Regions from separate parts of the Homo sapiens genome. Here region 2 is linked to region 1. A link means that fine-mapping ties the variant in region 1 to the expression of a gene that starts in the linked region. Tissue or cell type: atrial appendage. Region 1 holds a variant in brackets; the other region holds the start of a gene. All regions are shown on one strand. Distances are from middle to middle.

Region 1 (8,104 bases):
AGTGCAGTGTTGTGATCTCCGCTCACTGCAAGCTCCGCCTCCCGAGTTCACGCCATTCTCCTGCCTCAGCCTCCCGAGTAGCTGGGACTACAGGCGCCCGCCACCACGCCCTCCTAATTTTTTTGTATGTTTAGTAGAGACGGGGTTTCACCACGTTGGCCAGGATGGTCTTGAACTCCTGACCTCGTGATCCGCCCACCTCGGCCTCCCAAAGTGCTGGGATTACAGGCGTGAGCAACCGCGCCCAGCCCCCACCATGTTTTTAAATGACACCAACTTTCGACTCAATCCTATCTTGGACTAAAGGCCAAAGTAAAGGCACCTGCAGAAAATGTTGCTACAGAGAGGCAGAGGGAGACGGAGAGGGAGAGGGAGAGATCTGCAGATGGTTCAGAACAGGAAGATGAAGAAGGAAAGGGAGACCTGTGACCTGGGAAGACAGCTATCTCCCAAACGGAGGTGGAAAGGCTGCTTAACAGCTGGCTAGCCTCTAATCCTTACATTAATAAGGGCCACTGCCAAACTAAATGTTTAGGACGTTGTTACAAGCAAGTCAACGTCTGCATGAAATGCTGGTTATATCCTCTGACCTTTCTAGCAATTTATCCTAATAGCTCAGAAAAGCAAAACAGGTATCTCCAACCCCAAAATAAAGAAGTTATAAGATCATAAAAATGTTAGAAGAAAACATAGGATTTCCCCCCAGTCTTCCAGGAATCTTCCAAGCCTTAAAGCTAACATAAGAAATCATAAAAAAGAAGATTAATTCATACAACTCTAACCAAACCATACGTTTCTACATAACAAAAATATCATGTACAAAATTTAAAAAACCAAACAGCAAACTCGAGGAAAATGGTTACAAGTCATCCAGAAGGGTTAATTTACATCATACATAAAGTGTACCTATAAATACATAAGAAAATAATGCTTCTCACAGCATATACACACACATAAAGGCAAAGGAAATGAAGAGACTGTTCAAAGAACAGGAAATATGGATGGCTCAAAAACTTTCAAAAAGATGTTTAACTTCCTTCATAACAAGAGAAATGCAAGTCACAACCACCACCAAATACAATTTTTTGCACATCAAACTAGAAAATATGTAAAGATTTGATAATCCCCTGGGTCAGGGAGGGTGTAGGGAACAGAACCACACATATTATTAGTATAATTGTGCATAGCTAAGATTTCTACAGAAAACACTCTGACAGTATTAACATAAAAATGCAGCCTACTTTCACCCTCCCACTTCTAAAAATTTCTTACACGTGTGCAAATGTCTGTGCATGCCAAGATTTCGTGATATATTGTGAATATAACAGCAAAGACTGGAGACAAACTTAATGCTTCCTCGGTAAGTGATTAGTTAAATAAATGGCAGTCCAGTCTGACAATGGAATACTATGCAGACATAAAAAAGAATGAGTATCTCTATGTACTGATGTATTCATCTCCAGCATAAGTGAAAAAACAGTGTTTCGGATACGCTAGTGTTTCTGAGACAAAATATGTAAATGAAAGTAGAACATTTCTGGAAGGGGATGTGAGAAACTGGTAACCATGGTTGCTTCTGAAGAGGGAAACTGGGGGCAGAGACAGAAAGAAATGTTACTTTTATGCTATGCTTTCTGTACAATGTACATGTATTACCTACTATAGTCAATTTTTAAAAATAGATATGCATGAAGATATCCACTGTTGTTGCATATACTAGACAAAAGCCACCACTGGGATGACCTCATGGTAGTCAGTTCAGTATTTTATTATTTTTTTTTGAGACGGAGTCTCGCTCTGTTGCTCAGGCTGGAGTGCAGTGGAGTGATCTCGGCTCACCGCAACCTCCGCCTCCCAGGTTCAAGCGATTCTCCTACCTCAGCCTCCCGAGTAGCTGGGAATACAGACGTAAACCACCATGCCCGGCTAATTTTTGTATTTTTAGTAGAGATGGGGTTTCACTATGTTGGCCAGGCTGGTCTGGAACTCCTGACCTCGTGATCCGCCCGCCTCGGCCTCCCAAAGTGCTGGCATTACAGGCGTGAGCCACTGTGCCCGGCCGTCAGTTCGGTATTAGGAAAAGAATTTAAGAACTTTTAATAAATCAGCAAAAATATCATGCATTTAAAATGTTTCGGAAGAAATGGACAAATTCTTTTGATGAGGTGTCAAGAAAATAGTAGATTCCATTAAATAAACACTTTGATTAGAACTGTGAAAACAGGTTTGTGTGTAAGGCATTTCAAAAGTGAAAACTAGTCATCATATGATAACTAGGATCATGGAATTGTGGGCTATTTTTAAAAGTGTTACTGTTGCAATGATATAATTATTTCTAGTCTTAATTAAATTGTACTTAAAGTCACTTTAAATAACTTCTACTCTTTAGCCCTAGAAAAAGGATACAAATTACTTCCCAGGATATTTAAGCAACTTTCAGGATAAAGGTCAGAAATCTTTGCAAATTCATGAGAACAGAGGAAATGCTACCAGAAGATTGGAGCTGGACAAACATCCTACATTTCAAATACAGAAAAAATTGGGGCAAGTTCAGCTGGCATTGATTATTGGCAAAAGTTCTAGAGATTACTCAAGAAAGTGCTGAGTATTAGAAACCAACAGATTCAGTCAGAACAATGCAGGATACACTGTGCAAATTATTATTATTTTTTGAGACAGGGTCTCACTCTGTCGCCCGGACTGGAGTGCAGTGGCGCGATCTCGCTCACTGCAACCTCTCACTCCCAGGCTTGAGGGACTCTCCTGCCTCAGCCTCCCTAGTAGCTGGGATTAGAGGCGTGCGCCACCACGCCCAGCTAATTTTTCTATTTTTAGTAGAGATGAGGGCTCACCATGTTGGCCAGGCTGGTCTCAAACTCCTAATCTCAAATGATCCATCCACCTAGGCCTCCCAAAGTGCTGGGATTACAGGCGTGAGCCACTGCACCCAGCCTGTGCAAATCATTAAGCGCAATATTTGCAAGTCCATGGAGTCTTTGTTTTTTTGTTTTGTTTTGTTTTGTTTTAACTTTGTTGACTAAGATCTCAGAAGTATCTGAGAACTTGGGCTGCGCAGGGAATGCTGGTGTGGGAGAAGCAAGCCAACTGAGCTGAGCTGCGGCCCTGTTTGTCCTTAGCTCTCCAAAACTTGCTGTCTATGTCACTTGGAAGGAATTTGATTCTTTTCTGCAAGGCACTGACAATACCTTACAACAGAGCTGGGAGATAAAATGCAGAGCTTGTGAAAGTCATCAGAAAGTTGAACACAGATGGTCCCCGGCTTAAAACGGTTCAACTTGATGATTTTTTGACTTGATGATGGTGTGAACACGATACACATTCAGTAGAAACTGTATCGATAAGGGCTGCTTTATTCACCAGAAGTGAAAAACACGATGGTTGTGTGAGTATCTGAAGTACACAACCATTCTCTTTTTCACTTTCAGTACAGTATTCCGTAAGTCACACGAGATATTCAACACATTATAAAACAGACTTTGTGTGAGATGATTCTGCCCAACTGTGGGCTAATGTGAGTGTTCTCAGCACATCTGAGGTAGGCTGGGCTAAGCCAGCATATTCAGTAGGTTAGGTGTATTAAATGTATTTTCCACTTTCAATATTTCCAACTGATGAGGGGTTTATCTGGACACAAGACACAACACCATCCGAAGCAGAGGAGCATCTGTACCTGGTTCTTGTACAGAACACATGGCACACTCAACTGTGTGTTCACTGACTTAAAATCCATGATTGGCACCTGCTATTAGTCTGGCTGGTGGCTCACACCTATAATCCTAACACTTTGGGAGGCCGAGGCAGAAGGACAGCTTGAGGCCAGGAGTTCAACACCAGCCTGGGCAATATAGCAAGACCCCCCTCTCTACAAAAAAATAAAAATAAAAATGAGCCAGGTGTGGTGGTGCATGCCTGTAGTCCCAGCTACTCAGGAGGCTGAGGCAGAAAGATCACTTAAGCCTGGGAGGTGGAGGCTTCAGAGAGCTGTGATATCGTACCACTGGACTCCAGCCTGGGCAACAGAGCCAGACGCTGTCTAAAAAAAAAAAAAAAAAAAAAAAAAAAAAAAAAAAAAAAGCCTAGAGACTGACCTTGGGTTATTATTCTTAATCAAAGAAAATAATGTATATGAAATGTTTTATAAACTATAAAGGGCTGCACAAAAGAAACTGACATTAATGTTGTCATTATTTTGAAGGCATTGCAGATTCTGCGATGCAAATTCTGGTACCAATAACAAATACAAAGGCCAAGGCAAAAAATAAAAAGATCCTAACGGGAGAGATCTAGAAACTCAAAATTGTTAAGATGAAACCTAAGTCATGGTCATGCTACATGAGCCTAAAACTGAGAAAATCCTGATTTCATCCACCACTCCCAGGAAAACAACATTGGAGGGGTTGGTGATCATGGTCTGGAAGCAGAAGTATGTCATGTCTAGTTTAAGCCTAATGAATCAACTCTAGGTTGCAGTAGGGGAAGGACAGTATCCATCAATCCCCTCTTTGGGTTAGAACACACAGGGCCTGGCTGGGTTGGATTCTGGGTACCATGCTTAAGAGACACACATGCCAACCAGAGCGATAAGTATGGCAAATTTTTGCACGTATGGAATAGCTTAAGTACTGTAGATTTTTCAGCCAGGAAAGAAGCTATTGAAAACACATTTTATTTAAGAAATAATTTTTT[A/T]AAAAAAATTATTCTGAGGAGCAAGTGGCACAAATAGGCATGAGTTAACCTGAGTTTTATTTACCAAAGTGTGCCTTCCTGCAAGGAAAAGCAACTACGGGATGGACTAGCTGCCTTGTTAACAAAGCACTCCCTTTCCATCGATGGAAGTGTTCAAACTAGGATGGATAACTTCATGTTAGAGATATCATGCAGAAGGCGAGAGAGGCTGGTCAGCCCTAAGATCCCTTTTAACTACAATAACCTGGGATTCTAACTGGCTTGACAGTTTCACGTGTGTAGGTAGGTGCTAGGATACCAGCAGCCACATGAGAAAGAGGTCCAGAACTGTGCCTGGTAGCTCTTCTGTCTTCCTCTCCCTTTCTGACACCTAGGGACAGAATGGTGCATATATTGTAGGGCACACACACGCTAAAGGATACATACTAAATACAGGATACATGCTGAAGACAGCATGAGGCTTATTTGCAAGAGAAAGATCATGGAACAGAGCAGGAAAGAGGCACAAAAGGCAGCTTCTCAAACCCTGAGCTTTTATCCACTGAAAGAAGGCAAAGGCTCCTTCCACTTTCTGCTTCTACTTGGGATGTGGGCTGACAAGCACCTGACCCCTGGAACTCCTGCACTCACCATAGTGTACATCCCACATTAGTGCATCTGATACAGTATTCAACATACACAGCAGCACAGGAAAAGTCTGCCTTCCAACATGCCAAAATGTGCTTGAAAAGCTCTTTGAAGCATTTGTTATGTGCTTGAAACACACAGAACACTGGGAAGGCAGTCCTTTATTTAGATCTTTTTTGTCTGTGAAAATCAATATGTCCTTTCTAGGCTTTACTGTATAAGAAAATGTGTGTCTAATTATTGTTCCCAGGTTTCCCCTCTCAGTCTGGCCCAGTAACTGCAACGTGTCATCAAGCATCACCCAAAACATGCCACACACATGAGGGCTGTCTGTGACCCTCTCGAATGCTAATTTAGAAAAACTGCCCAGCTCTCCAATATGCCTCCATAGTCTGCTTTTAAGAACTATTTTTGTTCTCTCCTCCCACCGTGCATGGCTGAGTGTGAATAGCTGTTTCCTGGGTCCTCACTGCCAAGGTAATGGCACTCTATCCCATCTCATCACTTTCAAGTTCACCTCTACTTTGACCCCAGGACACAGCGCTCTTCACACATACTCACTTTGATCCATTATTCTCCCTCTGCTCTAGAAAGACACTTGAAATACTTAACAATGTTGCCAAATCCTCAGTCTGTCAGACATACACAGTGATTTAAATAGTCATTGTTCTTAATTTTTCTTTGCTGCTAAACCAACAAAGAAATATTGCCCTCCGTGAAGGGAAAACAGTCACAGAAACACCTTTAGAAAGCAGGGGGTAGGAGGTGGGTGGGATCAAGGTGAACCCAGCTAGAAGGACCTTCCCCATTACCTTGCAGGGCAGCAGGGGCAGCTCAGTCAGACAGTTCCCACAGGACAGAGCATTTCTGGCCAGGTTGGTACAAGATTAAAACAATGATTATGATGATGTAAGAGTTTATCTTACACATCCATGAGCTACAACTGTTAACCAATGCACACGGGGGGAGGAGGTTACATGCACATTGACTATTTAAAACTGTCCAATTTCATACATTTCGACAAAGCATTTAAAACTCTGCCAGAACAGCCCAGAATGGGTAGCGGGTGGGGTGGAGGAGAGTCTGTATTTACTTTAAAATGTGAATTAATTAGTTTAGACACAAGGAGCAAAACTACAAATGTCTTGATATCTCTTATATGTTAAGAATAAAATTACAGCTGTCTAGGGGCATTGAGTGTCCACCATTGCCCACTCTGTGTTTAGGCCTTCACACTTGTCTCACAACTCCCTTCTGCTACATTTCACACCACGCAATACCTCTGCAAGGGAGCTTTAGCTACAGGACTCAGAGGACAAGGTGCATGTTTCAGCTAAAGCACACCCCCGTTCTCAGTGCCTCAGCCCAAAGCAGCTGCTGTGTAAGAGCGGTGACGGCCGGGGAACACCCAAATGACATATTCTCCGCGTCCTTCCTATACTGTAGTGATGTTTACTGAAGTGCTGAGAAAACATGGGAGGAGACACTGGGGTAGCAAAGCCTAAAGTCAGATATCTTTGGGGAGGACTAAGCATCGGCTGCGGGTTGGGGATTTGCAGGAGTCTTTGCTTCTCTGGCTCTCCAGTTCTTTAGTAGGCTTTACCTGTGTCAAAATCAAGTGCGAGATGGAAGACTATTGCTTTGTGGGAGACCCAGGGACAACTAGCCGGGCAGAACAGGGCTGTGGTCCCGACTCCCCCAGCAGACCTTGAACGACGCCAGTCCGACTCCTCCAGAGGGGGCTGGTGACAGGTCAGCTGCCTCGCCCCGAGGGTGGGGGAAGGGCGCGCTTTCCATCCGCGTACTGGGACAGGAGTTTGGGTGCAAACTAGTAAAGGCTATGGTGCTCCCTTTACACCCAAGTAAAGGCATGTGGTTTGGGGGACGGAAGGAGATTAAGCCAATGCGGAATGCCCTACACACACTCTAGCACCACCACTTTGGGGACTTCGGTTCTCCCGCTGGCTCGGGCTTGGACCTCGGTCTGCAGGGAGAGGGTTGGAGGGACTGGGCGGCTGCGGCCCTTACCTTGCTGACCACGTTCTGGACGAGGCCGGCGCGGATGCCGTAGTCCCATGCGCGGCAGTCACAGTTGGAGGCGTTGTCCCCCTTGTCCGGAGGGGATGGCAGGGGTGGTGTGTCGCCTCCGTCCGCGCCGCTGCTGTTGCTCCGGTTGCCCGCAGCCTCCCAGGGGGCAGTGGCGAAGGGGGTGGTGGGGAGGCTGGTCCAGTTGCCCATGTCCCCGCCCCGGCCTGTGGTGGTGACCCCTGCCAGCTCGGTGCCTTTGCCGGCCCCGCGGCACCAGAAGTTGGGCTGGTCCAGGAGGAACGAGTCCGAGAACTGGCTGAAGCCGATGAACAGCGCCGGGATCCAGGTGAGCAGCACGAGGGTCTTCTGATAGCCCCCGCCCAGGCCCCCGAGGAAGGGCAGCACCGACCCGTCATAGTCCAGCAACAAGAGGCTCGGGGCCGCAGCCGCGGAGCAGCAGCTCGGGTGCGGGCCGCCTCCAGGATGCAGTGGGGGCAGCGGCTGGATCTCCGCGCCGCCGCCGGGGCCCGCGCGTCCCCCGAGGGGCGCCGAGGCCGCCGCGTCCCCGGGCGGCAGGGAGCCGTTCTCCTCGGCCGGGGCCGGCTGCCGCCCAGGCCCGCCGCCCGCCGCCTCGCGCCGCCGGTCTATGGCCATGGCCCGGGCCCGCGGCTCCCGCAGAGGCGCATAGAGCGCGGCGGAGGCTCCGCGGGCGCCCCGGGCACAGCGCGCCGGGCCAGGCGCC
Region 2 (8,085 bases), 450 kb before region 1:
AATATGTAAAGAACACCTACAACTCGGCCGGGTGCGGTGGCTCACGCCTGTAATCCCAGCACTTTGGGAGGCCGACGTGGGCGGATCACCTAAGGTCGGGAGTTTGAGACCAGGCTGACCAACATGGAGAAACCCTGTCTCTACTAAAAATATAAAATTAGCCAGGCGTGGTGGCGTATTCCCGTAATCCCAGCTACTCGGGAGGCTGAGGCATAAGAATCACTTGAACCCAGGAGGCGGAGGTTGCGGTGAGCCGAGATCTCGCCATTGCACTCCAGCCTGGGCAACAAGAGCAAAACTCCGTCTCAAAAAACAAACAAAAAACCTACAACTCAACAACAAATAGACAAACAACCCAATTAAATGGTCAACAAAGGACTTGAATAGACATTTCTCCAAGGAAGGTATACAAATGGCCAGTAAGCACATGAAAAGATGCTCAAAGTCATTAGTCCTTAGGGAAATGCAAATCAAAACCACAATGAGATACCACTTCGCACTTGCTAGGATGGCTATAATTTAGAGGGAAAAAAAAGAAACATAACAAATGTGCGTGAGAATGTAGAGAAGTTGGAACCTGTGTACATTGTTGGTGAAAATGTGAAATGGTGTAGACGCTGTGGAAAACAGTTTGGCTGTTCCTCAGAAAGCTAAACATAGAATGACCATAGAATTGTAATACCGACAATTCCACTCCAAGGTGTATAACCAAAATTATTGAACACAGGGACTGAAACAGATACTTGTACACCAATAATCATTGCAATATTATTCACAATAGTCAAACAACAGATGAGTGGATAAACAATGCCTGGTACCCTTCCTTCCTTCCTTCCTTCCTTCCTTCCTTCCTTCCTTCCTTCCTTCCTTCCTTCCTTCCTTTCTTTTTCTTTCTCTCTTTCTTCTTTCTTTTCTTTCTGTCAGTCTTGCTCTTGTTGCCCAGGCTTGAGTGCAATGACACAATCTCAGCTCACCGCCACCTCTGCCTCCTGGGTTCAAGTGATTCTCCTGCCTCAGCCTCCCGAGTAGCTGGGACTACAGGTGCACACCACCATGCCCAGCTAATTTTTGTGTTTTTAGTAGAGATGGGGTTTCCCCACGTTGGCCAGGCGGTATACACATTTTTCTATTATTCGGCCATAAAAAGGAATGAAGTTCTGATGCATACTACAACATGGATGAAACTCAGCAACAAGGTTTTTGAGGAAAAAAAGCTTAGTGAAAAGGCCACATCTTGTAGGATTCCACTTATATGAAATACATGCAATAGACAAATTCATGGAGACAGAAAGTAGATTAGAGGCTACCAGGAGTGGAAGGAGGGGAGAATGGGGATTTATTATCCAATGAGTGCAGTGTTTCTATTTGTTTTTGTTTTTGTTTGAGACAGGGTCTCGCTCTGTCATCCAGGCTGGAGTGCAGTGCCACGATCTCAGCTCACTGCAGCCTCCGCCTCCTGGGTTCAAGCAATTCTCCTGCCTCAGCCTCTGAGTAGCTGGGATTACAGGTGTACACCACCTGGCAAATTTTTGTAGAGATGGGGTTTCGCCATGTTGGCCAGGCTGGTCTCAAACTTTTGACCTCAGGTGATCTGCATGCCTCTGCCTCCCAAAGTGCTGGGATTACAGGCGTGATCTATGGCCCCTGACCCAAGTGTTTCTATTTGGGATGATGAAAACGTTTTGAAAATAAATAGTTGTAATGGTTGCACAGCACTCTAAAGGTAATTTATGCCACTGAATTGTACACTTAAAATGGTGAAAATAGAAAATTTCATGTTATACAGATTTTGCTACCCAAAAAACAAAACAAAAAATCCAAAACCTTTATGTTATTATGAAGAAGCAGTTTTCCAAAGGAATAGGGATGCTGGTAGCAGAAGGGAAAGAAATCTCATTAAATAAAAACAAAAGCAATGACCTCTTCAGGAGGTGGCTCAGCTAGTTTAGCTTTACCTTAGCACCATGATGGTTCATTTTATTCAGAAATAGAAACATGGGGCGTTGGGGAGAAGAGGAGATGTGTACCTGCCTCACCTGCCTCCCTGCCCAGAATGCCGACTCCGACTCTTGCTTTCCACTAAGGCTGGGGATTAAATGAAAAGTGAGAATCTGGAAACCCCCAGAGATGATGTTTGTCGTTGGAGCTGATTTTATCTCATTTTAGTAGCATGACCTCCTCCTCAAACTCAGGATGCAATTATGGTCAATCTCATTAGTGTGCAGTAATTGCTCAGCCCCAATACCAGATTAGCAGGAAGTTCTGTTATTTTCCTTTTGAGGATGGGCTCCTACTGAACTGTCCTGGAATCTACCACCATTCAGGTTACAAAAGACCCAGGGAACTAGGCCAGTCCAGCTCCCAACCCCAAGCAGGGAGCAACTTGCTCAGTCCACGTTGTGATAGCTCCTCGCTGCCACAAGGTGGTGATGTTGCATCACACACGCGCATGATGGGCGCGCAGGCGCCAATGCTCCCAGGACCTGCTGTTCCATTCCTAAATGAAAGTTGTTCCCAGGATCTGGACTCACAAGACAAGGCAGCCTATTCCCTGCTGGGGAGCTCAGGGGCAAGAGGGCATCTCGGAGGGAGGGCACATTCTCACCTCTGAAGACAAGGAGAACATCATCAGCACATAGACCAATCCCAGCAGTGCACCTTAGGATGGGGAGGGCCACTGTGAGTTACAGCAAAATGAACGAATGAATGAACCAATAAATGTCTGAGAGGGAAAGTCCCAACGACCCTCAGGAGGTACAATCAAGAGTTGCAGTTATTTTCGTTAGGAACGTTCTAAACACAGGGGAAACCTTCCTTCCTTCTGCTCTATTGTTGGAGTGGGGCCATCCCGGGACACCAGAAATCAAGGAATTGAGTTTGGAGAAGGGACTTGGGGAGGTCACAGTGGCAGGTGACTGCCAAATGAGGTGGCAGAAGCCAGCAAGCGCTGGAAAAAGTCGGCCCAAACTGTTCACCAGCACCGCCCCCCATAACTCCCCACCGGCTCTGGTTTCAAGACTTTCCGTTTTCTAGGTATTTCCTTGGCCTTAAACCATTTTCCTTTAAACGAACTTTTTCTGTGAAGCCATCCGGTTTCCCCCGATAGTGGCATCTCACAAAGGACAATCCAGTATCCCAACAGCGTGTTGCGTTCCGCGGGACGCAGATTTCCTTCACAGGCACCCCCCGGGTTGCGTTTTTATAGCCACACCCACCCGCCCCCCTATCTCCTGGGCACTGCTAATGAGTCCTGCATTTCTCTCCTTTGGTCTTTGGATAAATGAACCATCCGTGCGTGACCTTTGCGAGGGCATCTTGCATAATACCAGTACACCAGCGGCGCCGTCGGTGAGTGACCTTTGGGACTGGTTTCTCTCACCAGCGTAACTCCCCGGGAGATCCGAGCAAGCTGATGAGTGTATCAGTGGCTCATTCTTTCTGTTGCACCACGGACCCTCATTCTGTAACCGGGATACCAGCCAGAGATGGGGAGCGGGAGGCGCAGGGCAGGGGCGTCCCTCCTCTCAGCACAGCCTCCCCGCGCTGGATTTCTATCAATCCAGTTTCCACCTGCCTGGAAGTCAGCAGGGTCCTCCCCAGTCCCAGATCGCCGGGCGAGGCCCCAGATGGACCTCAGGGGCGGGGAGTGGGCGGAGCTTAGGGGCCGAGGCGAGGTGTGGGTGGGGCGGGACGCCGCTGTGGAGGCGGGGCCTGGGCGCGGACGGGCGCGGAGCGAGGCACCGCACCGCCGGGGCGGGGAGTGGGCGGGGCTCGGGGGCGGGGCGGGGTGTGGGCGGGGCTCACGGGCGGGGCGGGTGAGTGGGCGGGGCCTCGGCGTGGTAGGCGCGCTGCGTAAAGAGGCCTGCAGTCCCGCGGCGCGGGGCAGGTTCCGGGCTGCTTAGGTTGGCACCGGTCCGTGGTCCCCGGGGGCGCAGTCGCAGCGCTCCCGCCCTCCAGGCGTCAGCGAGTGCGCGGTCCAGTGCGGCCGGAACCTGGCGCAACTCCTAGAGCGGTCCTTGGGGAGACGCGGGTCCCAGTCCTGCGGCTCCTACTGGGGAGTGCGCTGGTCGGAAGGTGAGTGATCCCCTGTCGGGGACCGGGGGACTTGGGAAGGACAGTTCCCGGACTGGACGGCCAGAACGCTCTCAGGGATTTCAGCTGGCCGGCCATATGGCCCTGTGGGTCGTCGCGCCCGGGCCAGGGACCATTCTGTACATAGGATCGTGCTTGGCTCTCACGGAACGCGCCCACACGCAGGGTCCCGGTGTCGAATCGTCTGGTGGAATCTGCCCTCAACCCTATGGAGCGGGTGCTGGTATCATAGTCATATTACAAGTAGGAATCAGCGGGCCCAAGGTCAGTCTGTAAAGGGGGTACCGGGGTTTAGGCCCGTGCGCTGCCCAGCGCTGCCCTGAAGGCGCGGCTGAACCACTGGTTTGCGCTGCCTTTGTCAAGGACATTGTGGCACTGTGGAAAAAATGAAAAATCAGCTTCTCTAACCTATAATCTCTCTGGGAAAAAAAAAAATCAGCTTTTTTTTTTTTCCCCGAGACGGAGTCTCACTCTGTCGCCCAGGCTGGAGTGCAGTGGCACGATTTCGGCTCACTGCAACCTCCGCCTCCCGGGTTCAAGCAATTCTCCTGCCTCAGCCTCCCGAGTACCTGGGATTATAGGGGCGTGCCACCACGCCTGGCTAATTTTTTGTATGTTTAGTAGAGACGGGTTTCATGTTGGTCAGGCTGGTCTCAAACTCCTGACCTCGTGATCCGCCCGCCTGGGCCTCCCAAAGTGCTGGGATTGCAGGCGTGAGCCACTGCTCCCGGCCCTCTTTTTCTTTTTTCTTTTTTTTTTAGAAGAGTCTCACTCTGTTGCCCAGGCTGGAGTGCAGTGGGGCAATCTCAGCTCACTGCAACCTCTGCCTTCCAGGTTCAAGCGATTCTCCCCCCTCAGCCCCTTGAGTAGCTGGGATTACAGGCGCCTGCCACCATGCCCGGCTAATTTTTGTATTTTTAGTACAGGTGGGAGTTTCACCATATTGGCCAGGCTGGTCTTGAACTCATTCTTCTTCCTTTCTTTTTCTTTTTTTTTTTTTTTTGAGATGGAGTTTCACTCTTATTGCCCAAGCTGGAGTGCAATGGCACAATCTCAGCTCACTGCAACCTCTGCCTCCCGGGTTCAAGCTATTCTCCTGCCTCAGTCTCCCGAGTAGCTGGGATTACAGGTGCGTGCCACTACACCCAGCTAATTTTTGGTATTTTTAGTAGAAATGGAGTTTCACCATATTAGTCAGGCTGGTCTCAAACTCCTGACCTCAGGTGATCCGCCTGCCTCGGCCTCCCAGAGTGCTGGGATTAATGAACCACTGCGCCCGGCCAAAAATCAGCTTCTTTAACCTTTAATCTCTGAAAAAATAAATCAGTTTAACCTTTAATCTCCGAAGATCACAGCCAAAGAAATACATGAAAAGGAACAAGTATTAAATAATATATACTTCTAGCTGTGCTGTTTATAGTTTTGGGAAAAAAATGGAAATAACCTAAGGTCCCAGAAATAGGAAAATGGGCACAAAAGGGTATGCAGGCAATGGTTTAGCTGCCGCATGAATACACACTGAATACACTGTGAGATGTTGTCTGTTAGAATGCCCAGCACGGGGACTGTCCACATGGAAAGAGGCACAGGAAAAAAAGTGAAAACATTATAAAATAACTTCTTAAAATTAAATAATGTACACGTCAAAAATATCAGAGCCCACTTGACCTGGTATATACAGTTTAATAACCACATGGCTCTTTTTTCCTGTAGGCCTGGGTAGGTGCATAGTTTCTAAAAAGGGAGAGAACTGTCACTGCTGTGGATGGGGTGCCAAGGGAAGTGCCTGGGGTCAAGTGAACAGTGACACAACTGCAAGTCAAGAGCCTGTGTTGGAGTCTTTCCCCACTATTTCAAATAGTATAGAAAATAGAGCTGAGTCACTCAAATAGAGCTGAGTTAGTCACTCAGCTCTTGGACCTCAGATTCTTATTCTTAACCGCTAGGGGGATGGAGACAGAAGTCACAAACTCACATGCCACCAGCCATATGATGTAAACATGTAAACTGGGCCAAGGAATACAAAAGGGAGTGGTGAGCTGGGGACACTGAAGAATGGATGCCCTGTCTAGAGGAGTGAAAATGAAGCATTTCATACAAACAACATGATTTCGGGCAATCACTTTGGGAATCAGGATAAGGTGTTCCCCCAGTCTGCAGAAACACTGGCAACATTTACAAAGGTAAATCATTTCATATCACTCTATTTTCTTTTTCTTTTTTGAGACAGAGTCTTGCTCTGTTGCCCAGGCTGGAGTGCAATGGCACAATCTTGACTCACTGCAACCTCCACCTCCCAGGTTCAAGTGATTCTCCTGCCTCAGCCTCCCAAGTAGCTGGGACTACAGGCACATGCCACCATACCCGGATAATTTTTGTATTTTTTAGTAGAGATGGTGTTTTGCCACATTGACCAGGCTGGTTTCAAACTCCTGACCTCAGGTGATCCCCCCACCTCGGCCCCCCAAAATGCTGGGATTACAGGTGTGAGCCACCACAACTGGCGATCATTCCATATTACTCTCCAGCTTAAGAGGCTCCAAGGGCTTTCTGTCAGGCTTAGAATAAAATCCTCACCCCTACCCTAGGAGGGGTCAGGTCAGACCCCTCCCACCTCCCTGACTGCATCTACCACCATCCACTCTTTTTTTTTTTGAACCACAGTTCAGCCAAACAGGCTTTCTTTTTTTTCTTTTACTTTCTCTTTTTTCTTGAAACAGAGCCTAACTCTGTCACCCAGTCTGGAGTGGAGCAATCCTCTAATCTCAGCCCCCTGAGTAGCTGGGATTACAGGCATGCACCACCACACCTGGCTAATTTTTAAAAATCTTTGGTAGAGATGGGATCTCACTATGTTGCCCGGGCTGGTCTCAAATTCCTAGGCTCAAGTGATCTCCTGCCTCAGCCTCTCAAAGTGCTGGGCCTTCTGCTTCCCTGGGCTTTGCCAGGCCTCCCTATGCATTGTGATAGCCAAAGTTTGCTTTCTACAAAGTCACCTCCAGGCAGTGACTGTCCACCAGGGCACTGTAGAGCCTCCCAGCTAATGATGAAGTCACTCACTCTCCTCTCTTTTTCCTTTAAGATAATCCCTTTCCAGACCCGCCATTTTGGCTCACCCTGTAAGTTACAGCCCCACTTCTCACTGCCAAGTGTGGGTGTCACTGCTGGCTCAGGGAGCATGGATCCTGTAAACTTGCCTCATCGGGAGGCTTTGAGGAGTGACCCCCAGGAACTAGACAAGTAACTTGTTCTTCACAATCACTGCCCTCCCAAGAACATCCAGGATTTCAGCCTCAGTGCTAAGACAACCATGTCTCTCCCTGACACATGCTCGCTGCTGAGAATTCTAGGAAAAGCAGAGGGCTGTGCAGGCGCCCCTGCCCCTAGGCTAGGAGAGCTGGCAAATGCCTGGAGACCCAAAGGCCTCATCCTCAGGGCGGCCAACTCTTCTGTTTTAGTGATATACAGACTATCTTTTATTGTGATTTATAGTGCAACTTACCGGTTCAAACAATACTACCTGTATTCATAAACTTTCTTTTTCCTTTCCTTCCTCACTGCCCAGCTTTAGGTTCATTCTTGTAAGTGTTGCTGGTGTCAGAATAGGAACCTCCCTGCGCTTTGAAGGGATGAATGTGACCTCTCCCACATTCTCCGGTGCTGTGATGTACCTTAAACACAGCAAGGTACTTGGACACAAAGCCTGTGCCTGGAGCACTTTCAGACAGACAGTGCATGGCCCTCGCTACAGACTCAGTGCCATTGTAGATGTTTCTGCATGGAAAATACATAAACACAAATATCTGCAGTTGCCAATCCACCACCATCTTGCAGCCCCAAGAGAGCCCCGGGAATCCAGGTTCCTTTGGTATTTCTGCTCCCTGCCCTTGGTGCATAGCCTCCATCCCCAGGACGACAAGAAGGCTGACTGAGCCCTAACATCATCCCACAGTCCAGCTGGGAAGAGAGCCAGCGACAAAGCCAGAGGGAGCT

The links. PIP is the estimated chance that this variant, and not a neighbour inherited with it, causes the effect.
Region 2: it holds the start of NQO2, and the variant in region 1 is fine-mapped to the expression of NQO2 in atrial appendage (GTEx, PIP 0.96).

Annotation. Positions count from the first base shown.
Region 1 is chr6:3,448,544-3,456,647 of GRCh38, forward strand. It overlaps SLC22A23 (solute carrier family 22 member 23), which reads right to left. Exons shown (of 10, transcript NM_015482.2): 1 at 7,363-8,104. The coding sequence starts at 8,016. LOC643327 (a long non-coding RNA gene) reads left to right here and starts at 7,160. Exons shown (of 2, transcript NR_147844.1): 1 at 7,160-7,708. The variant A/T (reference allele first, on the strand shown) is at 4,708.
Region 2 is chr6:2,996,012-3,004,096 of GRCh38, forward strand. NQO2 (N-ribosyldihydronicotinamide:quinone dehydrogenase 2) reads left to right here and starts at 3,883. Exons shown (of 7, transcript NM_000904.6): 1 at 3,883-4,074. It overlaps NQO2-AS1 (NQO2 antisense RNA 1), which reads right to left and starts at 3,664. Exons shown (of 2, transcript NR_186367.1): 1 at 3,380-3,664. RefSeq lists a silencer at 3,632-3,881.